Linked DNA regions of Homo sapiens. The protein of the gene in region 2 interacts with the protein of the main gene of each other region in a pairwise test. Each region holds a gene or a part of one and is shown on either strand. Other genes may lie near its edges.

Region 1 (4,718 bases), on a different chromosome or scaffold from region 2:
GACAGATGGGAAGAGAGAATGTAAAGAATATGTGCATAGGAAACAAGAGTGATCGGGTGGCAGTTGAAAGTTAAGGAGCTAATTTGTTTTCTTCTTCAAACTGTATTCCCTTGTAATGGTGGTACTTTATGCACTCTTTCAAACAGAACAAACAGTTAAGAAATAACAAAGGAAAATAAATGTTCATGGTATCAGATAGGCTATAGCCTGAAAGTATCAATTAAACTTTCGAGTCCTAGCTTCAGGCTGAGAATCAAGCATTTTCTGCAGTCCTTAGGTATGAGATTCGAAAAATAAAGAAAGGAACCCAGAACTCAGGAGGCTGGTGACGAAGACTAGTAGGAAGGAGTCTAGTTGGTATATTTGGGCTATTGAGCCACACAGAGCAAGGTAAAAGCCAAGTTTCTACAACATGAAAGCAAGTTGGGAAAAAGAAATCTTCAACCTATATTCCCTAAGATCAGCAATGTCCCTGGGAGAGGATATGGAACTGATGAGTGGCAGCCAATGCTTCAACAATAGGGGAGGAAGAATAGAGAGGATGAGAATCAGTTGTAGCTAGCCGGGCAAGAACAAACCTACAGGGATATAGAAGAGCTCTGGTGTTAGATGGCCTGTGCCCAAATCTTGCCTCCACTACCTGCTAGATAAGCAATCTTGCACAAGCTATTTCACCTCTCCAAGCCTCATTTTTCTTATCTTCAAAGTTCAGCACCCATCTCTGAGACTGCAGATTAAATGAGACTGTCACAAAGCTCTTAATAGAATGCCACATTCATAGTACGTGCCCAATCAATGTTAGCAATGATTATCATTTTATCATGAACTACTGTTTGATTCTGGAACCTAGAATTTCTCTAAGCCTGACACTTTTTCTCCTTCTCTGGCTTTAAAGATGTGCTGGAAGGCTCACCCTGACTCCACTGCAGGGATTCAGCTTCAACATTATTCCCCTCATAGGACATGTAACCTCACCCACACTTCTACCCAGATTTCAAAATTCCAAGAAATGAAAACTATCTCCTTAAACAAAGAGAACTTTAGGTTTAATAATTCTTCAGATAAAGTATCTCATGCCCGGAGAGCATGAGAAACTAGACTAAGGCACAGATCTAGGAGTAGAAATAAAATGGAGGTCCAAACATGGATCGACTATTATGGAACACCTGATAAAACTCAGAGAGTTACAACAAAAGACACTCACGTGTGTCATTCAAATCCTCACAAGAGTCCTTCAGGATAGTGTCATTATCCTTATTTTACAGATAAGGAAACTGGGGATGAATGAGGGAAAGTATCCTGCCTACGGCCAGCTCATCAATATCAGAACTGGGCTTCCAATGAATATTAGATAAAACTGATATGTTTTGGGAGTTTATCACATGCCTCCCCCTATGCTGAGTCCATTATATGTGTCATCTTATCCAACCTGTACCACAAACCTATGAAGTGGTGAAAATACCTTGCCCAGGGTGAGTTTAGCAGTAACTGGTGGATATGGGATCTGAACACACGACTGGACTCCAAGACATATGGTCAGATGTGCAACTAGATGCCTAGGCATTGGACTCCCATCCCAGTGCACTTTTCCATCTCCCTCACTAGGAAGAGATTCTAGGTGTCATTTCCAATTTTTACATGTTCTTCACTCCACCCAAGAGAGGCCAGAACCATTCCTAAAGCACCAACACATTGAGGCAAAATGTCAGGCAGCAGAGCTGTGGCACCTTTCAAGGATGACAAGCCTTTAACTAAACTCTGGCCTTCAGTAGGGAGAATGTTGAGCTGAAAACAAATCTGGGCAACATTTCAGGTGCTGAGCCTTGTTGCTGACACCACAGAGGCCCAGCAATGCTGCTGAGTTAGTGGTGGCAGACAACTTGCTCCTGGAATCTACAAGGGAACTGGAAATGTTAGGAAGGAAGAAAGGAAGGAAGAGGAAGAGGAGGAGAATTAACATGGCATAGAGAAAAAAATATCACAAGCGTCTGAGCCAGACAAGTCTCAATCCAGTCATGTAAACACAGGCTGTTAATATTTGCTACCATATATTGAACACATTCTAAGTGCCAGGCTAAGTACTTTATGTGACTATTTCATTCAATAAAAGTCACTTGAGCTTATTAGCCCCAGGTTTCTAATGTATAAAATTGATTTAATAACATGTAAGTTACAGGGTTGTTATAAGGATTAGAGCTGCAATGGTCTAATGCTTGGAATTCAGCAGGAGTTAAGTAAATGTTTACATTACTAATTACGAAGCCAATATAAGCAAGGAGGAAGATTCCGGATGGGACAGGCCATCTCGCTATAGGAAAGGAAAGTGGAACAGCATTCATCCTCAACATTTTTACGAAGACAAAATGAAGACTGGAGTAGAAGACTGATCAGTGCAGGTGTAGCATAAAAGTGTAATCCTGGAAGATGTGGTGTGAGAAGGTAGCACAAGTGAAGCAGAGATACAGGAGATAGGGAAGGGAAGCTGGAAGCAGAGGTCACTGGAGGGAGAGGGAGATGGACACATTCAGGGCTACAAAGCAAGTTCTATGTGATTTGCTCACCTCTCAATTGTGGGACCCCTCAAAATGTGTACAGTACTCTCCCAGTGACATGCTTCTTGACCACAATGGATGAACTGTGCCCAGCATGCCCACTTTCCAATGCTCCACTGATCCCCATGTTTTGTTTCTGAAGGACAACCAGCCTTGGAATAATGGCAAATACCTTCTTAAGTTCCTACAAAGTATGGTCCCTGGGAAGTTTATGTCTGTAAGTCAAACCTTGGGAAGTAACTGAGTTTTGATGCCTCTTCCAGCATCATCAGCATCATGCTATTACAATCCCAAACCATGGGGGTTTCTCACAGCTTTACACCAAAGGGCATCACTATCCCTCAAAGAGAGAAACCTGGACACATGTACCAAAACGAAGATTACCTGCAGAACGGGCTGCCAACAGAAACCACCGTTCTTGGGGTAAGTCCACCTCATTATAAGGGGAATACTGAGAAAATACTTTGTAAATGTATCTAGACTACAGATCTACAGTGGGTCTGGGAAACTCTTTCACTCTTTTCTGGCTGACTCCAGGCTAATGAGGACATGAAATGGAGCTTTAAGGGAAGACTCTTAAAGCTCTGCAGCAGTTTCTAGAAACTAAAACCACTAGATCTTTTTCACTAGCATGCTTCACAATTAACAGGTTAGTCTTTCTTATTTTATTTATTTATATATTTATTTATTTTGAGACAGAATCTCCCTCTGTCACCCAGCATGGAGTGCAGTGGCACGATCTCAGCTCACTGCAACCTCCGCCTCCTGGGTTCAAGTGATTCTTCTGCCTCAGCCTCCCGAGTAGCTGGGACTATGGGTGCACGCCACCACGCCCGGCTAATTTTTGTATTCTTAGTAGAGATGGGGTTTCACCATACTGGCCAGGCTGGTCTTGAACTCCTGACCTTGTGATCTGCCCGCCTTGGCCTCCCAAAGTGCTGGGATTACAGGCATGAGCCACTGTGCCCAGCCACAAATTAGTCTTTCTTATTTTGTCATTAGTACAGTAAAAATTTTCTATTTAACCATATGGATTTTACTCAATATGATTAAATTAACTTTGAGCTTATTTTTCAAATATTTTGAGATGAGACGATCAAGACTAATCTCATGACCCATTTTTCCCCGTTCATATGAGTAACTATAAGACATCCAAGTGTCCCAGATCATCATCCCTCATATCCAGAACTTTAATCTCCATGTGGTTTTGAATACCCTCTTATAATACCCAGGTCCTATTCACTGCCTATTTAGATGGATCTCCCTGCCCTGTTTCTTTACAATCTATTCTTAGTACAGCAGGTAGGGTACTCTTTTAAAAATGAAAGTTAGATCATGTATTCTCCTGGCTCAAAATTATCCAGTGGGATTCCTTTTTTGCTCAAAATGAAAAGCAAAGTTGGTAAAACATAGCCTAAAAATCCCTACATAGTTTGTACCATGCCTCCAGTACTTCACAAGCCTCATGTCCTACTACTTTGCTCTTAACTCTATTCTGCCTTGCATGGAACTTGTCTGTACCTTTACAGACAAGACATAGTACACATATAAGCTCTCCAATGGTAGTGATTTTCATTTGCTTCATTCCCTCGTGCCTGGCACACAACATACCTGTTGTGGTATTCAATAACTGTTGATGATGTGAATGGTTGACTTCTTTTTTTATTTCTCCTATGTTTGCATCATCTTTCAATTGCACATGCATTAAACTATGAGCAAAAGCATGGGCTTTAGAGCAAGCTAACAGCTAAACTTCAGTTCTTCCACTTGCGAAATAATTATTATTAAAATCCAATGATGAACAAAATAAGATGAATTACAGCAGAAGAGATGACCTGCTCTATCTAATTTCAACTGAAAAATCTCTTCATTAACACTCCTGTGAAAAGTTTGCTCTCTATTTCCACCTCACTGGACAACTTTTTTATCTACTTTTCAAGAAAATAAATTTAAAAACTGTCAAGTATCTTTTTCAAAAAAAGTTAAAATGTGTGTATGATCACTTTCCGATTTGCTGGTTTAATAATCCTATCAGAAAAGAAGAGGTTAGCTATACATGACTTTCTCTAGAAGCATATCGATTGGCTCCTTGTAACATTTTTCCTCTTTAATATAACAAATTATAATGTATTTTATACTCTTTATACTTTACCGTGTGCATTCAAA
Region 2 (4,660 bases):
CTACAACGGCCAGGTCTGCGGCGGCCCGGGTGAGCCCGTGGGTCCCTGCTGGACAACGGCCGTCCTGCGGCACAGACTTGGTGTTGGGGGGTGCGTTCTGGACCATTCAACGAGTGGAACAGAAAGGGGGGATCCTGAGGACAGACAGTGCAAGTCTCGCCCAGCCACCGGGCGTCAGCAGGAACTTGGATGGCCCTGCACCCCGCCCTGCCTCAGTTTCTGTGTCCATGAGGACAAGGCGTCCTTGTGGGGAGGGCCCACAGGAGGAACGGTCATAGCCCTATTGAGGTCCCATTCACAGCAGGGCAGGGGAGGTCCAGACTGGCCAGGAGGCGGCCACGTGGCTGGCGGGGGCAGAAGGGCCTGGCTAGTGGCCCCATGCCTTTTGCTCAGGAACATCCCCCAGGCTGGAGGAGGCAGGCGGGCCGGAGGGAGCAACCGCAGTGGGGTTTCGGGCGGGTCTCGGTTCCCAGGCCAAGCAGGAGCTTAGCCGTGCTGCCCCGTCTTCCAGGGAGGGGGCTCTGCTTCTGCGGGAAGTGCCGCTGCCACCCGGGCTTTGAGGGCTCAGCGTGCCAGTGCGAGAGGACCACTGAGGGCTGCCTGAACCCGCGGCGTGTTGAGTGTAGTGGTCGTGGCCGGTGCCGCTGCAACGTATGCGAGTGCCATTCAGGCTACCAGCTGCCTCTGTGCCAGGAGTGCCCCGGCTGCCCCTCACCCTGTGGCAAGTACATGTGAGTGCAGGCGGAGCAGGCAGGGCGGGCAGGGATCCCCACTCCCCGGCCACCTACCCAGCAGCCGGGCTCACTCGGGGACCCCAGTGAGCACCTCTGCACCGCGGGGTTCTCTGCGGGTGCGTCTGGACTGAGGGGCCCTCCGCGGCCGCCGTGCCCCTGTGTCCCTCCTCCCTCCTGTGCGCACCTGCCGCGGGCCCTGGGATCAGGCTTCCAGTTCACCCGCTGCACCCGCATCTGCCCCACTTGGGCCCCCTCCTTGGCCTGAGGGCGCCCCAACCCCACCTGCCCCCCCTGGTGGACACACACCCAAGCCCGAGCCCCCGTTGCCGGAGCCCCCGCACACCCTGGCACCGATGCTCACACCTGGCTCCCCGCAGCTCCTGCGCCGAGTGCCTGAAGTTCGAAAAGGGCCCCTTTGGGAAGAACTGCAGCGCGGCGTGTCCGGGCCTGCAGCTGTCGAACAACCCCGTGAAGGGCAGGACCTGCAAGGAGAGGGACTCAGAGGGCTGCTGGGTGGCCTACACGCTGGAGCAGCAGGACGGGATGGACCGCTACCTCATCTATGTGGATGAGAGCCGAGGTGAGGCCGCTGGGGTGCAGCGGGGACCGGCTCCAGAGCTCCGGCTGCGGGGTCTCCGCAGAGGCGAGGGTGGTGCGGAAGGAGGATCTCACCTCCAGTGTTGTGGGCCCAGCAGGGTGGATGAGCCATGCGGGATGCCCTTGGCATTGCAAGGAGGCCAGAGGCCGGTCCCCTCACCCCCAGCAGCCTCCCCTTTCCCTCCCCTCCTCACCTGACCCCACATCAAGCTGGGCAGCAGACGGCCTGCTCCCTGGGGGCACCACTGCTCCACACCGGGCAGGCCCACCAGCATGCCACACGGCCCGGGCCATCTCCCGCTGGATGCCTCATGGGGCAAGGCTTGCAGTTGCAGGTCCCCAGGGGTGGCCCGCGGTCAGGTTGCTGCGTGAGGCTCCTTTGAGGGGATTGGGAGATCCTGGTGCTCGGCTCTCAGCCCTGGAGGGGCCCAGGGCCACCAGGCACCACCGTCCCCATCACTCGTTCGGCTCCAGTCCAGTCGGAACCAGTCCCAGCCCCACAGTGACCTTGGTGGCACTGACCCTGTCTCATTCGGCTCCAGTCGGAACCAGTCCCAGCCCCACAGTGACCTTGGTGGCACTGACCCTGTCTCATTCAGCTCCAGTTGGAACCAGGCCCAGCCCCACGGTGACCTTGGTGACACTGGCCCTGCTTCTTCAGGTCTCATGTTCCACAGGCTCCTGAGAGGCAGAGGGGCTGGGGCTGGGGGGCCGCTGGCGGACTCCATCAGGCATGGCCAGCAGCCGGCCAGGACTCTTGCAGAACTGAGACCTGGGAGCTCCTCCCTCACCAGGAAGGGACCCGAGGCAGGCGGCGGGGGTCTCTGAGCCTGTAGGTGACATGCCTGGAGCTCACAACCCACATGTGGGCCTGGGGCTGCAGACCCCCACCTGCCAGGGCAGGAACCCCTGCGGGCCACTTTGAGGGACAGACTTGGGTCACGTCTGGTTTGTGCAATCCTGGCCAAGTCACTTCACCTTTGAGGACAGGTGAAGGAAGGCAGGTCCCCCAGGAAAGGCAGGATGGCAGGAGGGGGCACGGGGAGTGAGAGTGCAGGTCAGGATGGCAGGAGGGGGCACAGGGAGTGAGGGTGCAGATCAGGATGGCAGGAGCAACCACAGGGAGTGAGGGTGCAGGTCAGGATGGCAGGAGGGGTACAGGGAGTGAGGATGCCAGACCAGGCCAGGGACTGCACTGAACGCTAGTGTCTGTCCCAGGGTCAGCAGCTGTGGGCCTGGCCCACTATGGCCCACAGTCCCCATGCTCAGGAGGTGGGCACAGCTGCCGTGGGAACCAGGACCTTGCGTTGCTCATCCTGGCACCGGCCTCACCTGCTGAGCTCTGGTCTCTGGTCTTGTCCTTGACGACCACAAATCACTTTCACAGTATGGGGAGTGAACTCCAGCAGGGACCCTGAGCCTGGTTCTGAACTCTGCTGTAGGAGAGCGGGGTCCCTCGCACTGTGTCCTACCCCCCAGTATTAGCACTCTGTCCTGGCTGCCCGGTACCCTGGCCCTGCCTTCTTCTCTGTCAGCAGGGGTGGTGGCAATGGCCCTTAGGTTTCATTTGGAACCACAGGGCCTGGCCTGGAATCCAGCAGGGGCTGGGCCAGGTTCTCACTGACCCCTGGCCATGGTGATGGATGGTGAGCCGGGGCCCTGGGAACCTCCGTCTCTCTAAGTGCTGTGTTGTGGGGTGACCTCGGACCTGTGGGCACACGGCTCAGTGAGATGGGGCTGGACTGACGCTCAGGTGTGCTGCTTCTTCCCTAGAGTGTGTGGCAGGCCCCAACATCGCCGCCATCGTCGGGGGCACCGTGGCAGGCATCGTGCTGATCGGCATTCTCCTGCTGGTCATCTGGAAGGCTCTGATCCACCTGAGCGACCTCCGGGAGTACAGGCGCTTTGAGAAGGAGAAGCTCAAGTCCCAGTGGAACAATGTAAGTGGCCGTCCTTGGGGGTCCCACGCAGAGGGGCACGTGCGTCCCACACTATGCGACCTCCTGCTGCGGGAGGCCGTGGACACCCGTGTGTGGCTGCACCCCGGCCTCCCCAGGCAGCTTGTCCTCTGGGCGTCCGCCGCTGTGGGTGAGCTTGGCTGCCGGTGCTGGGACCCTGGGGGGGCTGCCCCACGTCTAGCTCTTCCTCAAAGTGACGGCTTCCATGCGGGGAGTGTCCTCAGGGAGAAAGATTCTGCTCTGAAAACCTCCCACACTCACAAGCCCCTGTTTGCATTTCCCACCAGGATAATCCCCTTTTCAAGAGCGCCACCACGACGGTCATGAACCCCAAGTTTGCTGAGAGTTAGGAGCACTTGGTGAAGACAAGGCCGTCAGGACCCACCATGTCTGCCCCATCACGCGGCCGAGACATGGCTTGCCACAGCTCTTGAGGATGTCACCAATTAACCAGAAATCCAGTTATTTTCCGCCCTCAAAATGACAGCCATGGCCGGCCGGGTGCTTCTGGGGGCTCGTCGGGGGGACAGCTCCACTCTGACTGGCACAGTCTTTGCATGGAGACTTGAGGAGGGAGGGCTTGAGGTTGGTGAGGTTAGGTGCGTGTTTCCTGTGCAAGTCAGGACATCAGTCTGATTAAAGGTGGTGCCAATTTATTTACATTTAAACTTGTCAGGGTATAAAATGACATCCCATTAATTATATTGTTAATCAATCACGTGTATAGAAAAAAAATAAAACTTCAATACAGGCTGTCCATGGAAACTGGGCACTGTGTCCGCTGTATTCCCCCGACTGGCAAGGTGGCCAGGCACACGTGGGCCCTGTCCTGCCCGCTGACCTTTGCCACACAGGCACACAGCTGGCTTCAGACCATGGGGCAGGTTCTGTTTTCCCTTTTCCTTCCTCACCTGCTGGTCTATACAGAGCCCCGCTCTGAGGCCCTGTCCCAAATCCTAGGTGCATTTCCGTAAACGGTGGTGGCCCCACCAAAGAGGTGCCTGCGGCGGAGCCTGGCCAGGGCAGAGGCAAAGCAGGAAAGCGGGTACCTGTCTGCCCTCCCTCCAGCCATCTACACCTCCCCTCCAGCCATCTACACCTCCTCTCCAGCTCTACACCTCCCCTCCAGCCATCTACACCTCCCCTCCAGCCATCTACACCTCCCCTCCAGCAGTCTACACCTCCCCTCCAGCCGTCTACACCTCTTCTCCAGCCGTCTACACCTCCCCTCCAGCAGTCTACACCTCCCCTCCAGCCATCTACACCTCTTCTCCAGCCATCTACACCTCCCCTCCAGCAGTCTACACCTCCCCTCCAGCTGTCTACACCTCTTCTCCAGCCGTCTGCACCTCCCCTCCAGCAGTCTACACC

What was found. The genes of interacting proteins can lie anywhere in the genome.
Region 1: the proteins of ITGB2 (region 2) and MS4A7 interact in binary tests that used the Homo sapiens proteins (3 or more experiments, as listed by UniProt).

What each region holds. Positions count from the first base shown.
Region 1 is NC_000011.10:60,380,314-60,385,031, forward strand, and holds part of MS4A7 (membrane-spanning 4-domains subfamily A member 7), read left to right. Parts: intron 1-2,815; 5' UTR 2,816-2,828; coding exon 2,829-2,975; intron 2,976-4,718. UniProt on the Homo sapiens protein: May be involved in signal transduction as a component of a multimeric receptor complex.
Region 2 is NC_000021.9:44,885,347-44,890,006, reverse strand, and holds the end of ITGB2 (integrin beta-2 isoform 1 precursor), read left to right. Parts: coding exon 1-29; intron 30-511; coding exon 512-731; intron 732-1,111; coding exon 1,112-1,314; intron 1,315-3,104; coding exon 3,105-3,271; intron 3,272-3,576; coding exon 3,577-3,639; 3' UTR 3,640-4,054; downstream 4,055-4,660.